Linked DNA regions of Homo sapiens: all the other regions are linked to region 1. Evidence: fine-mapped expression QTL. A gene starts in region 1. Each other region holds a variant in brackets. All regions are shown on one strand. Distances are from middle to middle.

Region 1 (8,188 bases):
AAAGGATTTGCATTTTTACAACAGAAGACATCTCCGGGCCAAGTTCAAATGTTGGAATGGAAATCTTTATAAATATGAACATGAACATAAACATATAGCATATATAAAAATTTGATTCCCTTGATGATGTTCAGTGTTCAGTGCATGGGGAAAAAGGAAATGCTGCTTTAGCATGTGGACTGTGAAATGCAGGGCAAGGGGGAGAAAAGAACCATTCATCAAGTAGAAGCAGAAAATACAGCATATACTACTAACCTTGTTTCTTGTTTTGGGATTTTATTTCTTTTTCTTTTCCACAGCCTGAGAAAGCCTTGTGGACAATATATCACATAATCTCATAACAGAAACTAAAGCAAATTATAAAAATGAAGGGTGGGTGTGTGGTAGCAGAATTTTCACACATACTACTTGCTATCCAAAGCCCTGAAAATGGCTTTATTAACTATCAGGAAGTTTCAAATTCTTTGACATAATGACCAGGCTACATCAATGTCCTTAGAAACATGGCCAAACTATCATTAAGAAGAGATTTAACCATTTATATTCAGATTGGCCAAATAAATCAGAGTTGAAGAATAGGCTACGTACTCCTTCCTCTGAGCTCAATTCCCTTTTAGCTATTCTCTTTTTAATTTGTACCTTGAAAATGTAGCTCTAAGCTCTATCATTCCCCAATGTTTTATCCAAGTGATGGACAAGCTCTGGCTGTGGCCTGCTTTGTGTTCTTTTGGGACTGTTTCTCTCTTAAAAGGGCCATTTTCCATTGTGGAAACTAGTGTCAAAGGCTTGAGGTGAATGAAGAGGAGGAGGAGAATGTTAAAGAGACCCTTTCAAAACCAAAATTATATGTTCAAATGAATATGTTTTCTGTACCTCTGCAATATTAACCGTGCAGAAGCTAAACTGCCTGTCAGCATCTATACTGTGTGTTTACTTTTACACTTCATTTAGGTAAGAGCCAGGCTCCCAGACAGAGCAATTTGCTTATTGGTTGCATGTTTTTAGTCTCTGAGCGCCAGCACAAGGATATACTGTTCAGATGCAATGACGCTGACTAAAGAAACTTAAATAACAAACACCTTTTATTCACCTCAGGGTCTCTCACCAGTGTCTATAGACTTTCCTTTCAATCAAAATTGTACACAGAATCCATCTCTTACTAAACTCACATTATCTTTAAAGGCTTCTCCATAAAGTTAATTCAAATCCCTTTCAACCTTTTAAGAAAGGGTTTATTTAAAAAAAAAAGAAAAGAAAATATTTTGTTCTTTCTTTATTTCTGTGTTGCCCCTTGTGGAGGCAAAACACAGGGATAATACTTTTACTCCACTTTCTCTACATATCTTTCCAGGCATCTGACATGCAGCAACAAGGAGAATTAATAACAGTAAATCACATGTGTAGTTGTATCACATGAGCACACACCCCTCTCATCCTGGAAAACTTCACTTCTGGGGATGGGTAGCCTCAAAATAATGCAAGTCAGGGTTATGAAATAGTGTGATGCCATCTCAAACAGAACCTCTTACAACGTCTCTGGAAATGACTACACCCAAAGACAGTGGCACAAATGACAAGAGCATTCAGAGAAGTGATTCAACCTGGTTGAGAGATTCTGAGTGACCCTCAAATGCCACCACAGAAACCACCACCCTTGCCATACTTGAAGACAGAAAAGAGACCATCATTCAGTTGCAGCTGTGTTCATAATGTTTCCATTTATCACACACCCAGTCCAGTCTTGTTTCTGGATATGTGGGTCCTGGGGTTGCTTCTGCACATGGTAGCTATTACATAAATCATCAAAAGCAAACATAATAACATCAGTCGTGAACTTGGTCACTAATCAAATCAGTAGGCAGGGACAAAGAAATACAGAATAGGAATATACAAACCATATGCAAAAAGAAAAAACAAATCACTCATCCTTCCCAATTTCCTAGAATAGGAATAACAACATATTGCAACATAATGGAACACTATACATTGGTGAAAAAAACAATAAACTTTATTGAAGACGTATTTGTTTGCTTTTCCATTTTATGTTCAATAAGCTGCTTAATGGGAGAAACAACCTCACTTAATATTTGTGGGTAACATTACAGCCCCCATTGTTTATATGAGAGATGACTGTTTTTCATGTTTTTCTTAATGAAACATGACATTTATATAAGAAATATATGTATATAAGTAAAATTCTTCCAATAAGTTTTTTTTTTTTTACTTTATAGGCAAAAGGCAATTGTCCTTCCAAAAAGTAAGAGTTTAATATACTGAGATCAAATCACTGATATTTCCATGGTATCTGCTAACACGTATAAAATATGATGTTGAAGAGGGAACTTCCTAATTAATAATATGTCTGATATACTTGTGTACTCCTCCACCTGCCTCCAAATTGCCTTCCACTAAAACAAACCATTAAAAACTTCCCATTCAATGTATACTTTTGTGGAAATGAAATAATCAATTCAATATCTACTTTTCTAGATCTCCCGTCCTCACTGACATGCACAATATAAATGAGTTTTTACTGTTAGAACTTTGAGCACCAATTCATATTCTCATAAAAGAATTTCCATCTACTAATAAGAGCTCTTACTATTCACATTTTTAACAACAATAAACACAAACCCTCTTTGGGTTACTATCAATAATAAAGACGTGCATTGTGGTAAAATTTCCCTAGTTCACAACAGATATTTTCTTCTTGAACATCTGATTTTCAGAAGAACAATCCTGTCCTGAATTCTTTGTAATTTTACAAGTTACTTCTTCTCTTTTCTTGGCGCATGGTTTTAGTTTTCTAGTGTTTATTTATGGAGGATGCATTCCCTTGCGTCTCTATTATTTCGAGTTCCCCGTCTCTGGTTCTAAGGTGCTGCCTGCCTAAAACACACCACTTCACTGAACACCTGGCTTCTATATTCCTCTAAAATACAGATGTACAGTTGCTTTTTCTGGCATCTTGGGCAAGGTCCCACAACACTTTTAGGGAAACCAAGATTGTCTATTTTGATAACTACTTTTGCCAAAATAGTTCATTCTTCTCAAGCCTGGTTGAGGGGGTGGAGGGGACCTTTAGAAGTCATATGGGCATAGCAGGTGGGGGAAAACTGACAAAAGACCAGGGCGAAAATCATCCTCTGTGCCCCTGAAGATCTTAGTTGAAAATGCTCTACTAACATCTCTCACCAGCAAAAAGCCTGGAACACAGTATTTTTCACTTAGAAACTAAGATCACTACCTCTGATTTTGAGAGAGCAGCCCCTGGGCACTACCTGAGCAGGTAAGGGAGACCACTGCTCTAATGCTCATAACAGCTCTGAGATTTAATGAATCACAGACCCATCATCTCTTTCTAGGGCAACGTATTTTATTTTTGAGAAACAAAGTAAAGGAGGCTTCCCTTACAAATGCTGGATTTCTGACAGCTAGTTTTCAGACTTTTCTTTCGCAAGTTGATATCTAGTAACTCAGGATCACTGCCTGAAAATCGCTTCCAAAGGGTTCAAATTTGAATCAATGTAGAGGAGGTGGCACACAGCTGCTTGCTTTCATTAACTCTTACCTCTACCAGAAACCAAGCAGCTATGATGCCCAATCACAATTTCTATGACCACTTTCTTATCTTGTCAACTCTCTGAGAGTTCTGAGTAGCATTTCTCATTTCTTGCTTTTCAGTACCCACCCCTCGAACATACTTCCTCAGTGTACCTCAGCCTCCCATCAAGCAAAAAATCAAAATTCCAGTTTATGGCAAGAGCAGAATAAATGCAGCAGTCTCCTCTTCTCCATCATTTTCTGACTTTTCCCAAGTTATCGTACCAGCACAATGCCTTCTACTCCCAAATCACAGCAAGATATTAATAACCCTTAGTAGAAAGATTCCTTATTAGGTCACACAGAGTCATTATGGCTTAATAGCTGTCACCCTCCCAAGCTAACCTGTGCAACAGGTGTGGAAAGTAAACTTAGAGGCTCACTTGGCAACCCCACAAATAGGGCTTCACAGCTCTCCCCCCAATGCTCCCAATGGCCTCTGGTCCCCAGCATATGAGCCCCTGCCCCTGTAGACCTAGGGAGAAGCCCTTCTCAGCTCAGCTCACCTGTTTGTAGGCATCGAGGAGGAAGCTCTTCCAGACGCAGCGCAGTCCCTCTGAGGTCAGCATGCGCCGCCACTCTCCGCGAGTGGACTTGGAGCGGCTCAACAGCAGCACCACGTGCTTGAGCAGAATGACCGAGTCATAGAGAGCCAGGAAGAGGCAGTTGGAGAAAAAAACTGGCAGAATTTGCAGTGTGATCAGCAAGTCTACGCTGAGGATGCCCATCTTCTCTGCCTCCTGAGTCAGTTCCCTTGTGCGCTCTGGTTCCCCTTCACCCTCTTATTTAAAAGGGGGGTGGTGATAAAGGGGGTGGGGGAGGTAAGGGGGAAGGTTGGGGGTTGGGGGAGAAGGGGAAAAAAAACTAAATTAAAAGGAAGCCCAAGTTGTCTCCTCTTTCAAAGAAGCAGAAATGGCAAGACTAAGTCCAGTCTCTCCAGCCCAGCAGTTGGAGTGTGCCCATCAATTCATTCAATTCGGAGCTGCTGCCTTTTTTTTTTTTTTTTTTTTTTTTTCAGGATTTAAGATGTTAAAAAAAAAAAAAAAAAAAAAAAAAAAAAGCTGGCGTACTCGTCCCTAATCCAGTTACCTCTGTCAGAGTCCGTTAAAGACAGGCAGTTCTACTTTCATTTCCAAGCACCTATGAGACTGTGGCAGAGATTTTAAAATTTTCTTTAGCCTTTCATTGTCTCTATGCTCTTTAAACGTAGCCTGTTTCTTTCTTGAATTGCCAGAGTTTTTTTTTTTTTTAAATGTGCTTTAAGGGTAGTTTTTTTTTTTTCTTTCTTTACTCCGTTTTACACACACTTTCTGTGCTTCTCTTTCTCCCAGTCTCACTCTCTCCCTTCCCCAGGAGCGACTGACTCCTCTTTTTTCTCACTCTCTGTCTTTCCCTTCTTGCTATCTGTCTGTGGTGCAAAGTGCCTCTCTCTGCAGCCCAGTGAGTCTCCCTGACGCCTTTTATACATTCCCTGGCTAATTGCTGCAATAGAGAAGTGAAAGCCTAATCTTGGTAAAGATCTTGACGTCATTGAGAAAGAGGGCTTTACTTTGGCCAGGATTGCAGTGAATAGAAAAGCAAAACTCGACAACTTTTTTTTTTTAGAAGGGGTTGGGGAGAGACAGTGGAATTTTGCTTTGTGATTTAAAGAGAGAAAAAAACTAATACCCTTGACAGCCTTCAGGAAATGCTTCCAAACTTTGGGAAAAGTAATTTAATATAATGTGCAGATTGATATGGCCAACACTCTCTCTTCTGATTATCATTATCATTAATTTATGAGGGGTTTTGGAAAGAAAGGATCCTGGAAGGCAGGTAGAAAAAAGGAAGAGTTATCACAGGCGGTCTTTGCTCTGTTTCTTGGAAAATATGAACATTTATATACAATCTTTATACCTTTATACCATGACTCCAACCCTTTGTAAGATCTGTGACCTAGGTCCTTTAAATTTTTTTGAGTCATTATCTTATTTAAGAAAATGCAAAATGAGTTGTAGGTGGAAAACTTGTAAACTATTTGAGTACCATCCCAGCATTTCTTTAAAGCTTCTTGCAGAAACTTGAATACAGGTTTCTTTTTAGTTTTACCCAAGCTTCTAATGAAAAAAAAAAAAAAAATCCAAGTTCCTCCAGACAGGGAAGGAGCTAGGCGACATTCTTTTAGCTTCATTTTGCAGATAAAATTAAAACTTTCCATTGAATAGCATTAAGAAGCCATAAGGCTGAGAAATTATTAATGAAAGCTCTTTAAATTTGGTGTTTCACCTGCTTCTGTTAGCATAACCCCTAAGAGACCTGATACTTTAAGGAATCTTCCTTTTTGTTTGAAAAAAATTTTAATTAAATGTATGGGAAGTTAAGAGCCGACTGAATTGGTTCAAGGTGCCACATTGACCATTGTTCATTGGCTTGCCTCTCCCATGAGTCTTTAGGACAGGTATTTAGGCAGACAATGCTTTGGCAGAATGGCATGACCCCCACTTTATTCTACTTTTTCATCCTGTGTTACCTAATAGATCACTGAGTTTTCTCAGTGATAGATACTGAGTTTTAGATACTGGGTAATAGATAGCTGAGTTTTCTATGTAGCCAGAGCTTAGGCATAAGCTAAGCAGTAGGTGCAAGCTTGTGGTTAGCGTATTGCGTATTTTTTCCATGTGGCTAAAACCTTCATGATCACAGAAATAATTTAAAAGCCTAGACAAGAGTCATTAATTTGTCGTCCTGTTAGCTGAATTCTGCATATTAATGCATTTTGTTTGGTTGGCAGGTTGCTTTTTTGCCTTTAAAAAAACAATAATCAAAAAAGAATGCCTTTAGGTTCCGTGAGAGCAGGGATTCTTGTCCACTTTGTTCACTGCTACCTCCCCAACACCTAGAACCATGCTTGGCGCACAGTTGGCTCATTGAGGACGTCCTGAATGAATGAATGAACAGGGCATGTAGAGGGCCTCTGCATTGCTCTACACTAGGGGGCACCATTCACATACAATATGATGTGAATGGGGGTGCCCTGGAATTGTAAAACGTGGTGGCCTTGTGCAATGCCCTCTCTTGTGACACAACCCTCAGCATTCCCTACAAATTCTTTCATTTTTTTCATTAGTTTGGCTCCTAATGAGTTTTGAATTTGCATCTCATGGACGAAATTGTTAAAAGACTTCAAAGCTTAGAAAAATAATATAAACCACATAGAAAAATTACACCTTCCCTATGACTAGCATACAATGTTAGCAAAATAATATTACTAATATATGCAATGTACATTTACTGCATGTATCTTCTCAAACTACTCAATGTCCTTATGGGAAAAAAGAAAGAACAAAGGCAGGGAGTTGATAGCACAGTATTTTAACTGGTGGAGATGTGAAAGCTATATTGCCATAGTTCCCACCAACAATGGCAGAAGGAGGTGTAGACTCAGGAAATGCTGCTTCCACTCAATTGCCCAGGCCTTAGAATCTCTCCCCTTCTCAGACCTTCATTCTACCTTGATTGAATTAAACCAGTGCTCCCCTGCAGTGGAGACTTCAGCAGCTTTAAACCAATTCTCTCTCACTTGCTTTTGCTCTGAAGGAGGAAAGTATGTTTGTAAATGGCAAGCTAAGGAGAGGGATTGATAGAAAATCAGAAAAACCTTTCTTTTAAATGTGAAGTTCAAAGCATATCCAGACTTTAAGTGGTTATAAGTTAGAATTAGGACTCTGTTGGGGGCTTTTGTTTCTTTTTATTTATTTATTTATTGAGGTTAGAAGTGTTTGAAGGGAATTTTTTTTTAAATAGGAGAACAAAAAGATACACAGCCAATCTGGTTATGTCATTTCTCAGATTTCTTCAATCATTTTTCTAAATGAACGATAAACACATCACAAAACTGAGGGCCATTCCTCTAGCAGATAGACAATCTGTCCATCCAAGAAATTACATTTCTCCAAAGCTATTTCTTTTTTTATGCATGGTGCACAATTGCTCATTCCAGTTATTAAGAATATTTACCACATTGATTTTCAAGTAATTTTATACTCATTAAGTAACAGAATAATCCTAAGGTGACAGAGTATGACTTTTCCCATCATATAGATGAGAGAAAGCAGATTACCAAAATTAGGGAGTCCAAGCGGGTGTTGGGATATTTTCCCTAACTCTAAATAAGCCTCACTTTTTTTCTTTAATGTCTGTTATGGGTCCTGGTCATTACTATGAGAACCAAAACCCTTGTTGAAAGTGGTTTGCTAGTAATTTAATCTTCAAAATGGCAAAGGCTGTGAGGACTTCACATCTGTTTAAGACTGTCCCGACTCAGGCTCCTTGTTTAGATTTCATATGTTCTTTCAAAGGGCTTGGCTATCTTCTTGGTCATGTATGTGTTCTTAGCAATCAACATGTAATGAGTTAAATGCAAACCAACGAGGGGCATGTCGGTTGCATTTCCCCATACGATATTCCACACGGGTTTTAAATTCCAAAGAGAAGCAGCCTAGGGCAAAATGCTTTGGGCTTTTTATGAAAAAACCTTTGCAAAATTGTTTAACTTTTTTATATTCCCATAGTAAAAGAGCATCATGTCCTACTGTTGCCTCTTTCT
Region 2 (8,188 bases), 84 kb before region 1:
CCATCCCATTATAGGCCCAGAGGCCCAAGAGGAAAGACTAATACACCACCCTCCCATTATAGGCCCAGAGGCCTAAGAGGAAAAATTGGTTTAGTAGATCAGGCCCAGGGCCTCATTGTCCTACACAGCCTCAGCACACTGCTCCCCACAATCAGGTGCTCTGGCTCCAGCCTCAGCTCAAAGTGCTCAAAGCTTAGGCTGCTGCTTGGGGAATGCAAGCCACCATGAACCCTAGCAGTTTCCACATGGTGTTAAGCCTGTGGGCATACAGAATGCAATCATAAAGGAGACTTGGCAGCTTCCCCCTAGATTTCAGAAGATTCGTGGAAAAGCCCAGGAGCCCAGGCGCCCAGGCAGAAATCTGCTACAAGAGTGGAGCCTCCACAGAAAACCTCTGCTAGGGCAGTGCTGAAGACAAATGTGGAGTTGGAGCCCACACACAGAGTCTCCATCAGGGCACTGCCTAGTGGAGCTGTGGGAAGAGGGCTACCGCCCTCCAAACCTGAGAATAGTTGTTTCATGGCAGCCTGCGTCTTGAGCCTGGAAAAGCTGCAGGCAACCAACTCTAACTCATGAGAGCAGCCATGGGGGCTGCACCCTGCAAAGCCACATGGGTAGAGCTGTGTGTGGCCTTGGGAGCCCACCCTTTGCACCAGTGTGCCATAGATGCAGAATATGGAATTAAAGGAGATTCTTTGGGGGTTTAAGCTGTAATGACTGCTCTGCTGGGTTTCAGACTGATATGGGGCCTGTAGCCTTTTTCTTTTGGCCAATTCTCCCTTTTGGAATGGTAATTTATACCCAATGCCTGTGCCACCATTGTATCTTGGGAATAAATAACTTACTTATTTATTATCTCAGAGGCTCACAGGTGGGAGAAACTCATCTTCAGATGAGACTTGAGACTTGGGACTTTTGAGTTAATGCTGGGATGAGTTAAGACTTCAAGGAACTTTAGAAAGACATGAATGTATTTCGGAATGTGAGAAGGACATGAGATTTGTGGGTCCAGAGGCAGAATGATGTGGTTTGGATGTTTGTCCCCTCCAAATCTCATATTGAAATGTGATTCTCAATGTTGGTGGTGGTGTGGCATGGAATAAAGTGATCAGATTATATGGGTGGATCTTTCATGAATGGTTTAGTGCCATCCCTTTGGTGATAAGTGATCTCTCTCTCAGTTCACAGGAGATTTAGTTGTTTAAAAGTGTGTGGCACCTTCTTCCTCACTCTCTTACTCTGGCTCTCACTATATGATGTGCCTGCTCCCCTTTGGCCTTCTGCCATGTCTGCGAGCTTCCTAAAGTCTCACCAGAATATGAGGAGATGCCAGTGCCATGTGTGCTGTGCAGTCTGCCAGGACCATGAGCCAATTAAACTCCTTTTCTTTATGTTATCCAGCTTCAGGTGTTCCTTTATAACAATGCAAGAATAGCCTAACACAACTCCTTTTCCAAATAAGATCACTTTCACAGGTTCTGGAGGTTAGCACCTGAACATACATTTTGAGGATCGCTACTCAAGCCACTATGCCCTGTATTAAAGATAGCTGGCTCTGTTTGACTTATCTATCTAGGCACATTTAAGAAGCCAGAGATTGGCAGCCACCACCTCCACCGAAGTGGATTTAATGCTTGAGGATCAGAAGCAAAGGAGAGGACTAGAGGGCAGGCATGCCTGCTGCATCTGAGCACATTCAGTCCAAGAGGTCAAGACAGAAAGGCATTTCTATTGTTAGTAGTGCTCTCCCTAGAAAACTGTGGCCCACTGGAAGAGGAGTTCTCACTATTCAAATTCATGACTCCTTATCCTAGGGGAAAAGTAAGAAAGATACAGAAAGTGAGCCAAGGTGTTTATTCTAAACAACTCCTTAGCTTATCGGGAGAAAAGAAGCAGTCCTCTCCTCCACAGAAATTCATGAAAGGACAATGGGTTTCCTCACTAATTCCTCATTCTGGTCTTCAAAAAGAAATGCACTAATATGAGCTAATAGTTTAAGTTAGTCTATAATGTTTGAAAAGTTGGCTCCAAGTTGATACAAAGATGTATTCACTCATTAGTCATTTATTTAGCAATGTAGGCTAAGCACCACCTACGTTCTGTAAATATAGGGGTAATGAGGTAGTCATGATCCCTGCCCAAATGGAATGTATAGGGTAGTTCGTGGGACAACATACTATATCATAATTACCATCTTCCATTGTCTAAGTGTTCTGATATAGAAGCAAAGACCAAGGATCTTGTAACCTAGTTATTCAGGAAGTGGCACTAAGACTTAGACCCAACTGGGCGCAATGGCTCACTCCTGTAATCCCAGCACTTTGGGAGACTGAGGCAGGTGGATCACGAGGTCAGGAGATCGAGACCATCCTAGCTAACCAGGTCAGGAGATCGAGACCACCCTAGAGATGGCAAAACCCCATCTCTACTAAAAGAAATACAAAAAAATTAGCTGGGCATGGTGGCATGCACTTGTAGTCCCAGCTACTCGGGAGGCTGAGCCAGGAGAATCACTTGAACTCAGGAGGTGGAGGTTACAGTGAGCCGAGATCACACCACTGCACTCTAGCCAGGGTGACATAGCAAGACTATGTCTTAAAAAAAAAAAAGGACAAAAAAGGACTTAGACTCAAAGAGAAAGTAGTATGTTGGTAAAGGAAAACAAGACAGGCAGATAGCAGGTGAGAGAGAACCTGGAACTGTAGCAGCTGGTGAAATAAACAGATATTAGGAAACAAAGGGTCTTGTACACATGTTGAGGTGTTTGAACTTGTTCTACAAGCTTTGAGGACTCTCTGAAGAGCTAGTGGCATGATCAGATTTGCATGTTGAAATACTCACTTCTAACTACAACATGAAGAATTGATTAATGAAAAGCAGAGGTGCAATAGCCAATTAAGAATCTCTTGTGATAAAATACAGTTGTTTATTTGTATGTTCTATGTGAAAATGAACCAAAATCCACTGTGGACCTCCTATTCAGTTATCCCCGCCTCTGATTCCACAGTCTGTGGGTCACAGTGGCTAGTCTAGGGTGGAAGGAATTTAGGGGTTGCTGCTTAAATTTCACAGTGATGCATCTTCAGCCTTCAGATTGGCTTAAGTCAAAGGAATAAATTATCAGTCTTTGTATGTAGAAACTGACTTCAGGCATATCTGGATCTGGGGATTCAAACAATGCCATAAGAACAAGGTCTTTCTGCCTGGCCAAAACGGTGAAACCCCGCCTCTATTGAAAATACAAAAATTAGCCAGGAGTGGTGGTGCACACCTGTAATCCCAGCTACTCAGGAGGCCAAGGTATTGAGAATCACTTCAACCCCGGAGGCGGAGGCTGCAGTGAGCCAAGATCATGCCACTGCACTCCATCCTGGTCAACAGAGTGAGACCCTGTCTCAAAAAACAAAACAAAACAAAACAAAAACAAAAACAAAAAACAGATTGAGGTCCCTCTCTCCATTTTTTAAATTCTGCCCTCCTTCATATTGACATCACCATTGGTGATATCTTCTCCAAAACTGTGGCTCTTTTAAATTAACTCATGGGTTGCATCTTCCTAGCTTCATAAGCAGCAGTAAGAGTGCATTGACTCTTCTAAAAATTATGAAAAAGTCCTCCCATTAATACAAATTGGATCATATGTCCAACTCTGAACCAACTAGCATGTTAAGAAAATAGAATATATTTCTAAGGTTGGTTGTGGTTAAGGTGCTCATCCCTGAAGTGGGGCATAGGCACATCTTATATGAAATAGACTAAAAGTGAGAGACAGGCAATGGTTAAAAGGAAATCATACGTGTCATTATTCTGTAAGTCTCAAAAGTAAAGGTACTGGATTCTGGACTAACAAAAGGTTTCCACCACACAACCTCATTCTTCTAATCTGTCAAACACAGATTTATATAATCAATCTATATTTTTTTCATTAATAATCTCAGGTTGTGTACAAGAATCCTAGAACTTGTGAAAGAACCATTATGAAGGCTTGGGCTTCTTTCTGGGTAAATTCGACCTCTCGGTTCAACCAGATTGTGGCATTATTTGCTGTGCAGCAGCCAGGTGGACTCCATTCTGGGGCAGAGAAGCCTGCCAGCTGATTATTCCATGTCCCATTCTAATTTAGGTCTCAAAGAAAATTGTCACAGCCTTGAGTGAAGCCATCTTGGAATCAGGGATTGAGACCAAGAGAACAATGGAATAACACAAAGCCCAGGGCTTTGCCTTTCTCATTGGGGAACTCCTGTATTCCATGCAGAGTAAGAGTCAAATCTTACTCTACATGGATACAAATCCCATATCCATAAAATGCAAGTCAATCCCTGAGAGAATCTGTGAGAGGTACACCAGTTATCTTGGCCAAATCAATGTCTAAGAAGCAAGGAGTCAGAACCCTGGCCAGCAAAGATGGAAGGGCGTCCTTTTGGCTGCAGAAGCCACCTGGAAATTCAAATGCAGCGGTGAATACAGTGGAACTCCTGGTGGCTAACACCACTGAACAGCATTGCATCACAATCCAAAATGCCTTTCTCTGGCTCCTCTTCATCAGCCAAAGAATCATGAAGTTACAGTGAAAAATATAACTTTTCTTCAGGATGTCCATAATTGGAATTTTGAACAATGAACTAGAACTTGGCATCAGGGACCTTTTTTTTTTTCTTTTCCATAGCAGGCATCTATCTTTTCTGGCTGATTAAGGTCTGTTTCCCTTTATTGTAAAAATATTCCCATCTCAGTGATGCAAGTGAGATTCCAGGAGTGGACATGAGGACCTGGCCTGTGCAAACTTTGGCCACAGTGACTGGTTCAATGATGAGCATGTGACCTAATTAAGGTCAATGAAAGT[T/C]ATACCTGGGACTTTTGCTTAAATTATTGGAACTGAATGCCCTTTATTCTCTGGGACATTAATATGGCAGGATGTAAGCTCAAAGCTGATGAGTAAGTGTCTCCACATGGAGACAGAGAGAGAAAAAGCAATAAATTCTTGATGCAGATGACCTTTTTTGAGCTTCGAGATCACCTTCTGCTTAAAGTCAGATCTATTCCTGAGCTTTACCATTATGTGAGATAAGAATCTCTCCATTTTTGCTTCAGTGAAATTTCAAGCCCCTGCAACTGAAAGTTTTCTGTCTAATACAGTTTCTAAGTCCTCAAGGTGCCTCCACACTCAGATTCAAGGTATTCAGAGCATGGTATTAAGTGGAATCCTTTCCATGTGGAAATATTAACAAACAGGAAAAGTGAGCCTCCACTTCCACCCAGATCTAGCTTAATCTGGAGAATTAGTACAGAGGGAAAGTTTATGCCCTAGTAAGACATGCAGCATGTATTTGTTAAGATAAAATTCTCTTTTATCTTCGCAATAGGACAATTATAAAATGAGCAATAGGGACATTATAAAACGATCAGTAATTGTGATTGACTTTTTATTTTTATTTTTAATTATTATGGGTACATAATAGTTGTATATGTTATTGGGTACATGTGATGTTTTCATACAAGCATACAATGTGTAATGATCAAATCAGGGTAATTGAAGTATGCATCACCTCAAGCATTTATCATTTCTTTGTGTTGGAAACATTCCAATTTCACTCTTGGTAAATGGAGTATCCATCACCTCAAGCATTTATCATTTCTTTGTGTTAGAAACAGTCCAATTTCTCTCTTTTCATTATTTTAAAATAAGCAATAAATTCTTGTTAGCTATAATCACCCAATTGTGCTACCAAATACTAGATCATATTCATTTTATCTAACTGTACTTTTGTACCCACTAACTATTACCATTTCAGCCCCCTCTCCCTGCTATCTTTTCTAGTCTCTAGTAACCGTCACTCTACTCTCTATCTCCATGAGTTCAAAAAAAATATTTTTTTTAGCTCTCACATATGAGCGAGAATATGTGATATCTGTCTTCCTGTGCCTGGTTTATTTCACTTAACATAATGTCTCCCAGTTCCATCTATGTTGTTACAAATGACAGGGTTTTGTTCTTTTTATGGCTGAATAATATTCCACTGTGTATATACACCACATTTTCATTATCCATTCATTCATTCTTCCATTGATGGACACTCAGATTGATTCTATATCTTGGCTACTGTAAATAGTGCTGCAATTAACATAGGAGTACAGATATCTATTCAATATACTGACTTTCTTTCTTTTGAATATGTAACCAGCAGTGAAATTGTAATCCTAAAATATATACAAAACCACAAAAGACCAGAATAGCCAAAGCCATCCTGAGCAAAAAGAACAAAATTAGAGGAATCTCATTTCCTGACTTCAAATTATACTTCAAAGCTATGGTAACTGAAACATTGTGGTACTGACATAAAAACAGATACTTAGACCTATGGAACAGAATAACTCCAGACATAACTCCACACATTTAAAGTTAACTAATTTTCAACAAAAGTACCAAACACATACACATTGGAGAAAGGATAGTTTCTTCAATAAATGGTGCTGGGAAAACTAGATACCCATACGTAGAAGAATGAAACTAGACCCCGTCTCTTACCATACACAAAAATAAAATTAAAATTTATTAAAGACTTTAATTTGGGGTCTGAAACTATGAAACTATTACAAGAAAACATTGAGGACATCCAGAACATAGATCTGGACAAAGATTTCTTGAGTAAGTTCTTAAAAGCACAGGCAACTAAAGCAAAAATGGACAATTTGGATCACATTAAGCTAAAAAGCTTCTGCTCAAAGAAATAATCCGAATTGAAGAGACAACCCACAGAATGGGAGAAAATATCTGCAAACTACTCATTTGACAAGAGATTAATAACCAGAATATATAAAGAGTTCAAACAACTCAATAGAGAAAAATAATCTGATTAAAAAAATGGAAAAGGGTCTGAATAGACATTTCTCAAAAGAAGACTTATGAATGGCCAAAAGGCATATGAAAAAATGTTCAACATCACTAAAAATGCTCAAATTTGATTTGAGAAATGCAAATCAAAACTACAATGACATATAATCTCATCCTAGTTAAAATGGTTTTTTTTAAAAAAATAGGCGATAATGAATGCTGGCAAGGATGTGGAGATAGGGCACTCCTCATACACTGTTGGTGGGAATGTAAATTAGTATAACCACTATGGAGAATAGTATGGAGGTTTCTTAAAAACTAAAAATGTGATTGCAATTTTCAGAGAACATTTTATCAGGGAGCTGAGGCCTTAATTCTGTCAGTTTAGTCAAATGGTATCCACTGACCTACCTGCCACCTCAATCATTTCTTTGTTGCCTTTAATATGCAAAAAGTTGTGGGAGGATGGTCTAATGTTTTGGCCAGTTAATTGGAGAAGATAAAGTTTAATTGCAGGTCAGGGTCTATATTAAAGTGATTTGGGTAAAGAAAGGGTAACACAGTCTGTTTCCCCATTCCCACACTCTCTTTTAACACCCTATGTAGTTAGAAAGTAATGAAACTGACAAAATTGTGTTATAAGATTGAGTGAATCACACAAAAAGAAGCAGCTCTGCTTGGGTAACTTTTAGAAAGAAGCCATTTTAGCTACCTCTATACAGGCCGAGCCCCATTCTGGAACCCTGAGGTTATCTACTATAGCTGCCTAACAAACTACTTCCCAAAACTTAGTAGCTTAAAAAAGCAACCATTTTATTTCTTCACAGTTCTGTCAGTCAGAAATTCTGGCTCATCTCTCCTTCTCAATGTTCCTTACAGCATGGTAGTCACAAAGTTGTAAAAGTTCTTTCATGACAACTGGTTTCCAAAAAATAATACTCTGATAGAATACGACCCATCGTACAAGCACTTATTGAGCCTCTGCCTGAATCATGTTTGCTTATATCCCTTTGCTCAAAGCAAGTCACATGGTCTAGCCCAGAATCAACATGGAAGGGGATAAAGCAAGAACATACACAAGGAAGCGAGATTCAATTGTGAAGGAAGGGCACTAATAAATCAAGTCTACCATAGGCTTAAATACTGAATTTCTCACAAAAATAATGTGCTTTTTTCCAGGTGCTTTATAGAGACTGCAGGTAAGCAGTAATTACTGGTTCAGGAAAGGAAAAACATAGTAGCCACCAAAACATTGCTGCAGTTAAAAGATTGTCTTATGAATATAAGAGAAGTATTTTCTTGGGTACTCTGAGAAATAACTACAGAATATCCAAAGGAGTGCTAATTTCCTACTTG
Region 3 (8,188 bases), 180 kb after region 1:
GCTATATAATATGGTATGGAAACTAGTTCAGACCTTGCTAGCCTCATAACTGCTACTGAAGAGAAGATCTCTAAGAAGCATCAGCCCAGAGGGCTGCTCAAAGGAATTCAAGAATGTGGCTGAAGCTAAATTTCCTTGGGGACTTAAAAAGTTGCTGTTATTTGAGCTGGCACATAGCCAGCTTTGTTGTGCTCTGCAGCAAGTAGCTTTGCATAGGGTTAAGAAAGTCAAATTCCTCAAACAGAGGAGGACCCAGGTACCCAGTGAGTCAAGACTATGTCACACACAAACACAGACATATACAGTCTGGAAACCCTGCATTCCTGTAGCACAGTATGTCTCCACCTCAAAAGCATGGTGCTCTTTTGTTTTGTTCTCTTTCTTTCCTTTTCAGCTAAATGGGTTTTGACAGTGATGAGAGCCATGTGGGTGGTTGTCCTTCAGGTTTTGTCAATTGTATAAAACTGACTTGCCATCGTTCACCTTCTTCTAAATTTGCACTTTTCACTATAGGCATGATGTATGTCAAACCTCATTACAATGAAAACCTTTGAAAGATAGACATTTTCATACCTCTTAACTATGATTATGAGTTTTTTTTTATTTAGGCAATACACAATACAATAGGTTTTCCTTTTAACAAAAGTGTCTGGACAATCCTTGGGAGTTAATCTGAAAGAAATTGGTAACTATAAGTAAGGACAAATAATTTTAGAAGAAACCAAGTCTTGTCATTGACATAGCACTTATTTTCTCAATATTATCCCAGAAGTTCTGCTTATCATTTACTGATTTACGTGGAGAAACAACATATGGGAATGTTTCCATGTGAACCTCAATTTGCTTTCTATACCATCTCCTGGTTCCATCTCTTATTTAAACAAGTTATTTTACTTGGATAAACTGCTTGTTATTCTTGTTTTGTTTTGTTTTTACATGAAACGGATAGATTGTCTCTTAATTTCTTTGTCTAATGGGACCCAAATTAATAACACATTCTTCTGAACTTGAAGATATCTATAGCGTCAAGAGCATGAGACCAAATTGGCCAACTGACTCCCTCGTGTAAAATGAGGCAGTTGGCCTTTCTGTTCACTATACCCTAAAATCTCTGATCCCCTAAAATTGCTGATACTCCTCTAAGAGGATCAAATATTCACATTTTCCAATATATTTCATGAGTTTTTTCTATAAGGTCCAAACTATTCCATTTAATTCTGTTTAAACCAATTGATTTGTTGACTTAGTTAACAAATACATATTGAGCATTTGTATGTTCCAGGCATTTTGCTAGATGCTGCCCTTAAGAAGTTCATAGTCTATAATTTTACATATTTTATATCTGATACATATTTATGTTTTTAAAAGCTCCATATACTCTCATGTAGCAATTTCTCCATTTTGTTTATGTGTGTTAGTGTAGACATGCCCAACTAGGTCTAACACCCTTGAAACTACAGATATCTTCAAGTTCAAAAGAAAGTTTTATCAATTTTAGACCTATTAGACAAAGAGATTAAGAGACTGTTTCATATAAAAACAAATAAATCAATAATAAAAAATAATTTATCCAAGCACATTAAGGGAATACTATAGCTATTTTTATCACATTTTTCAGGTAAGGTAGAAATCAGTAATTTAAGTGCCTGATTGTGAGTGAAGATGGGTGGAATGAAATCCAAATGAGATTGGAGAAACATATTTTCCTGCAAATTCTTTCTCACTAATTCTTAACCGTATTTGCCTGGAAGTGCTATGTCACAAATCTTTAACCATTACCAATCATTACTTAAATTTGTACAGAAATCTAGTATAAAGTTAGATCAATCAGGCAAATAAATTCAGATTTCATTTCTGATTATATTTTTATCAAATTCGAATAGGCTTCAAACTCCATTAGCTAGATTTACAATTTCTAATCCAATTCCTGTAAGACCCTATAAAATGACCTATGAGTTACCGGTATTTCTAAGTATGCTAGAATATTATATTATCATTGCTTTCTATCCTGTATCTTAGAAAACACAAAGCTATTCATAGGCATAGACATTTTAACTACATCAGATTTAAGAAACACTAGACACATCACCATGCCTCTGAATATCTCCCCAACTGACAGAAAATCATCTTCTGAATTTCTCTATTAAAGATGCCTTTCTTGGGGCTCAGATGCACAGTCATCAAGAATGGCCTGATTACAATAACGATAGCTATTCATTCAGTGTCTAGGCTGTTATAGATATTGTGATTTCCCTGTATGTATCTAAAACATCCTTATAAAGTATTATCTCATTTTCTTCTAAGATAAAGGAAGTGAAATGAGGGTGGTCACCTAGATGGGATGCAGTGGAGCCAGCATTTAAACCCTATGCTCTTTCACTATGACATCTTGGGTCACTCTATTCAGCCATCATCAGCTTTCAGTAGTCCATTGTAGAATATTTTACTAGATTATTCTTCAAGATGTTTGAAAATAATGCCAGAAATATTTTTAATAGTAGAAAAAAAAACCCAAGTGATGCATCTGGGAAATGGGGCATTTCTCAAGGTGATAATAACTGAGCTTGGTTCTCTAAATAAAGTTATTAGCTAGAAAAAGACACACAACACAAGACTACAAGATTTGGAGAAAACAAATACAATAATAATAGCTAGCATTCACTGAAAACTTACCATGTGCATCCACTGTCCTAAATGCTACCCATATCTTAACTCATTTAAGCCTTTAAGATCAGAGAAATATACCAAATTTGGAGAAATCTCAGGGAAACAAGTAGACAAGAAAATAAGAACATTCCAAGCAAACTCTTCCTACTTCAGGGACACTCCTTTGCCTAGACAGATACCTTGAAAAGTGACCCTGTAACTATCTGGACACATCACACTCTTCTAACCAAGAACCTACAACCTTAAATAAAGTATATTACCTATATAAGAAGCAGAGACAAATCCAGGTTTGCTGGGCTTAACAGTTATGCAATTTGGGAGTCCCCTCACTAAGAAAAAGAGTACAAAATTGTGGATGCAAAAGTGCTTGTGAAAATCACTGTGTTCATAACTGATTGCTAGTATTTTATGTTTTTTTAATTTTACAAGAACATATGATCACATCAATGCACCTCAAGAGCTCTTGTTGAGACTTGGAAGGGGCCCGAGCAAGTGAGGAGTCTAAAGCTTGAGTTTCATTTACTTCACAGTATATCTGCTTCTGACAACAAGCAAGACTGAAGTTAATCCATTTAGCATGATGATGAAAATGAAGTCATCAATGAAGTTGCAAGCTTAGGATATCCTTCACATTAACCACCAGTAGCCCAACTATTTAACTAAAGGAACTTTGTAATATCTGGACTCAGAAACTGAGATAAATGCCATAACCAATCATCCAACCGGAGACTGAGGTACATGTAATCAGGTTCAAAAGTGACTCTAAAGGTACTTGCCTGGCAGCATGACAAAGTGGCATATTATTACACTCCTTAAACACTTTGTGAGAAGCAGCAATCACGTCTCCCTCCTAAATGTATCCAAACACATCAGAGCATTAGACAAACAACTCTAGACATTTACCACATTTCCATTCTTGTATATTGACCCAAGGGATAGGGAGGGACAAGGCTTGGTGAGGCAGAGAGCATCCTGTTACACATAACCCACCCAAAAGTACAGAATTCATTTCTTGAATTGCTATGACACCCTGGGCCCCTTTGTTTCTCAATAATAGATGGACTCATGTTTCCTTCCACCTTATAAAAATTCCCTTAGAAGGAATTTAAATGCAGTCTGTGAGCATTAAAACATTCTTTACTGGGACCACCCATTCATAATGCTACCCTAGAAAAGATAAAGAAAAATGAAATCTAGATATAAGAACCAAAGGGATCAGGTGAACAGGATCTTAATCACTTCCACAGAGAATAAGCTAGTGAAATGAACTAGCATGGTTTTCCCTTCAAAAGCAATCCTGAAATGAAAGAAAAATGTCTTATGTTGGGTGAAACATACATTTTTAGATGGTAGACACAAACTGAATTATTTGCACCCTTAGATTTTTTGAAGGCCAGAGAGATCAAACATTTCCCTGCTGTTTGTTTGATTTGGTCTGAGGTGAAGCCAAGAGATGTGGTGATGGAAGCTTGGAAAAACAATTAAAAAGAAATGTATGCAGTGGTTTTTCTGGGATCCTAATTAACTGGCCCATTTCTAGGTAACATTAGGGAAGTTGTGGGCTGTGATTATTATCTCTTTAAAGTCCTAATTAAAATGTCAAACTGTAAGGTAGAAAGTCTTCAAAGCTGCATGTAATTTGATTGTGTTGGCTTATTGGAAAAATGGCCTTGGAAATACAAATAAACCAGCCACTAAAAAGATCCCAGAAGTCCAGGCTTTTTTCCAGAAGTATAATCTGTTGAACCAATAGCATTTTATAACTAACCACTCACCAAGTGGTAGACATCCAAATGTCAAAGCCTGTTTCATAACATGGTAACACATAACATGCTGCAGAAGAATGCCTCTCCATTGCATATTTCGGTTTGAAAAGGGTGTTTGGGGTTAGTTCACCTACAAATGCTTATGTGCTTATCACCCAGACTTAAATGTTCTTACTTGGTGAGCTTCAGAAGTTGCCGGCACCCTACCCACTTTCCAAATTAGTCTGCTAGAGTTTTGTAGCTCTAAAAGAATCCCTGCATACTGTGGCAGACTTCTGTTATTCTGAAGTATCAAAATCTCAGCAGAATGAATTCCCTATCACATCTG[T/C]GCATGGGTATTAGAGAAGCTGCCCCTCACTTATAAAACTCAGGCAGATATGACACGTTGAGATGTTAGTAAGAAAAAAAAGCCAATCAAAAACTGGCTTAAACAACAAAGACACTGGTTGTCACATAGCAAGTACAGCAGTGAATACAATATCTCAACGACATCAAATGACCTACTTTCTTTCGATTTTTCCACATTGCCATTCTCAGACAGTCAGCTGCTCCTCTCATCATCACACTGTGGTTACATCAGTTCTACGCATCGTCTCCTTATAACCATTTTGAAAGGGAGGAAAACAGGAATGTTGCCTCCCATGCATGTCCTTTTATCCTTTCCTAGAAACCCTTCAGCACACTTGCCACCACACTTCATTCTCCATAGTTGTATCATATGCCCATGCCTAAACCAATCATGTTCTTTCAATGGCAATTACTGTGACTAGAGAGCTAATCAAGACTCATCTCCACTCCCACAGCTAAGGAGGGATTCAGTCTCCCCTGATGTACATGCATGTCATACTGATATTGAAAAACAAATTATAAGTGTATTTGCAAGAAAAAAATGGAAGAAACGCTGGGTAGGACACCAACATTGCCCACCCCAGTAAGTGGTACATCTACTGCATCACTGTCAGTAGGTTCCAGGCGTGGGCAGATTTGTATTGACATGTTGATCACAGTCTCTCTTCTATCTCCACTCATGGCAACATGTTTATAAAATACCTAGTCAAGGCCTTTGGCCATGAATAAAAGAAAAAATTATTTCCACCTTGAAATTCCTCTATTCATTCACTTGTTTATTCACAAATATAGATTGAGCAGGCCCTGTACTCGACATAACAAGAACAAGCAAGACATGATCCGTAATAGGAGTCAGCTTATAGTCCAGTGGAGAGAATACATAAAGGCAAATGAGCAGTGTCATATCCCCTTTGATGGGGAATGTACAGTACTCTAAAGTACTTTAATAGTAAAGTATCATAAATGCTTTGATAGCAAAAGTCCTGGGGAATATAGATGCACATAGATGTACTTTATCCAGTTTCCTAGATGAAGAGATCACTGAGGTAAGAAACGAAGATACAAAGGTGAGTTGTAAGTAGAAAGACTTAAAAGGAGACTAAAGGAACCCTCCAACCTTGGTGCTTCTCTAATTAACTTCGACTAATTTAGCTAACTTCTCAAGAATACCTATACTGCTAAAACAGCGATTCTTAAATTGGAGTACATGAATGTAATTCAGAAGATGAGTAAACTTAAAGAATAAAAAAAATACATCCTTGTTTTATTAACGCAACTGAAATTTAAGATTTTTTTTTCAATAATAAAAATATTGGCAAATAATCAATCTGTACTACAGGGTCCCAGACTTAGGATTTTACTTATACCGGACTTGTGATTTTTCAACTTTACAATGGTGCAAAAGCAATTTGCATTCAGTAGAAACTATACTTCAGATTTTGAATTTTGGTTTTTTCCCCCAGGCTAGCAATACATAGTATGATACTCTGTCACGATTTTGAGCAGCGGTAGCGAGCCTCAGATTCCAGTTGGCCACATGACCATAAGGGTAACCAACTGATACTCTACCATGTACTATGTTCCCAGATGATTTTGCCCAACTGTAGGCTAAGGTAAATATTCACAGCATGTTTAAGGTAGGCTACACTAAGCTATGATGTTCTGTAGTCTGTCGCATTAAATGCATCTTAAACTTAAGATATTCAAATTATTATGGGTTTATTGGGATATAACTCCATCGTAAGTCAAGGAGCATTTGTATTATCATTACCCATGACTTTATCAACAATAGAAATCATAGATATTTCATATTAAATTATAGTTGGTGCAGACATGTCAAAAAATATTCAAATGTATTTCCCTTATAAGACTTACCACTAGATATTGTTCTTTAAACCATTAATGTAAATAACATGCTTTTTAAAACATTTGGTTACTGTATTCCAATATAATTGGTTTCATATTTTATTTTCTATTTCTATATATTTTATTTAATTTTATTTTATGCATCTAAAGCAATAGTCAGAGAAGGGGTTGATAGATCTCAGCAGACTGATAGGGATGCATTTTTCCCTCAGATCAGACATGAGGGATTTGGAAAAGGTATAAATTTACTTTTGTTATAATTAACCTGCCCAATTAAATTTTGTGTTTGATTTTTAGCACTGTTAGCTGACGTGGTTTGGCAGTGTCCCCACCCAAATCTCATCTTGAATTGTAGCTCCCATAATTCCCATATGTTGTGTGAGGGGCCTGGTGGGAGGTAATTGAATCCTGGGAGCAGGTCTTCCCCATGGTGTTCTCTTGATAGTGAATAAGTCTCATGAGTTCTGATGGTTTTTTAAAGGGGAGTTCCCCCACATAAGCTCTCTTGCCTGCCACCATGTAAGATGTGCCTTTGCTTCTCCTTTGCCTTCTGCCATGATTGTGAGGCCTCCTCATCCATGTGGAACTGTGAGTTCATTAAACCTCTTCCTTTTATAAATTATTCAGTCTTGGGTCTGTCTTTATTAGCAGCATGAAAATGAACTAATACCTTATCCCTGTGGAAATAAAATATTCTTTTAGGGAAGCAGTAGAAGCTCTCTGAGTCTATGAGTTTGTCATTTTCTTTTTATAAGAGATTCAGTGCTATCAGAAAACCCATTCCACACCAAAGTTCTTATAATCATTGTTACTGCCATAATGGTCAAGTTCAGCAGCTTCTTAGGCAGTTGTCTCAGCAGGCACTTCATCACAATCACTAATAGTGGTAATTTGATTGAATGAATTGCTACTACATGCCATAGATTACTAGTATATAATTTCAGCATTGTGTTCAAACCCAAGAACATGAAGAAACCAATTTTGAAATCCCATTTTGGAGTGTCTGTTACCTGAGATCACTTGTGGAATCAATTTCTGTATCAGTCAGGGTCCAAGCAGGAGACAGAAACTATATCAGTTATTTGAACTGAAGGAATTTAATATTTAACAAATTAGTTCAGTATAAACTTGTTAACTAACACGGCAAGAATAGAACACTGAGTTATTGTTCAGTAAACTTTGAAACAAAGTACTGTTAGCAAATATTTTACTATATTATTGATAGTAAATATTTTCAGCTTTGCAGTCATGTGATGTCAAGTACTGAAAAAGGTCTGCAAAAATATCTCAAGCACTGATCTTAAGTTTTACAACAGTGATGTTATCCCTAGAAGCAATCTGGGGAGGTTCAGAATCTTGCAGCCTCTGGCTACATGACTCCTAAACTGTAATAATCTTGTGGCAAATTTGTTAGTCCTATAAAGACAATATAGTCCCCAGGCAGGAAATGGGTTTGTTTTGGGAAAGGGCTATTATCTTTACTTCAAAGGTAAACTATAAACGAAGTTCCTCCCAAAATAAGTTTGGTCCACCATCAATGA

Direction of the effects. Positions count from the first base shown, and alleles are read on the strand shown. Sizes are in standard deviations (SD) of each study's normalised expression. Not every link is listed here.
For the expression in thyroid of the gene that starts at base 4,363 in region 1, allele C in region 2 goes with a higher level than allele T (small effect, 0.21 SD a copy in GTEx).

What was found. PIP is the estimated chance that this variant, and not a neighbour inherited with it, causes the effect. A credible set is the group of variants that fine-mapping cannot tell apart.
Region 2: its variant is the best candidate, but not a certain one, in a credible set for the expression of DIO2 in thyroid (GTEx, PIP 0.83).
Region 3: its variant is the best candidate, but not a certain one, in a credible set for the expression of DIO2 in nasal epithelium (TOPMed, PIP 0.65).

The regions. Positions count from the first base shown.
Region 1 is chr14:80,207,142-80,215,329 of GRCh38, forward strand. It overlaps DIO2 (iodothyronine deiodinase 2), which reads right to left and starts at 4,363. Exons shown (of 2, transcript NM_013989.5): 1 at 4,110-4,363. The coding sequence starts at 4,331. It overlaps DIO2-AS1 (DIO2 antisense RNA 1), which reads left to right and starts at 4,278. Exons shown (of 9, transcript NR_038355.1): 1 at 4,278-4,347.
Region 2 is chr14:80,122,888-80,131,075 of GRCh38, forward strand. No RefSeq gene overlaps it. Among named protein-coding and RNA genes, the nearest start is that of DIO2-AS1, 84 kb to the right of the region's middle. The variant T/C (reference allele first, on the strand shown) is at 4,844.
Region 3 is chr14:80,390,786-80,398,973 of GRCh38, forward strand. DIO2-AS1 (DIO2 antisense RNA 1) reads left to right here. Exons shown (of 9, transcript NR_038355.1): 6 at 3,198-3,401; 7 at 6,245-6,394. Among named protein-coding and RNA genes, the nearest start is that of DIO2, 180 kb to the left of the region's middle. The variant T/C (reference allele first, on the strand shown) is at 4,762.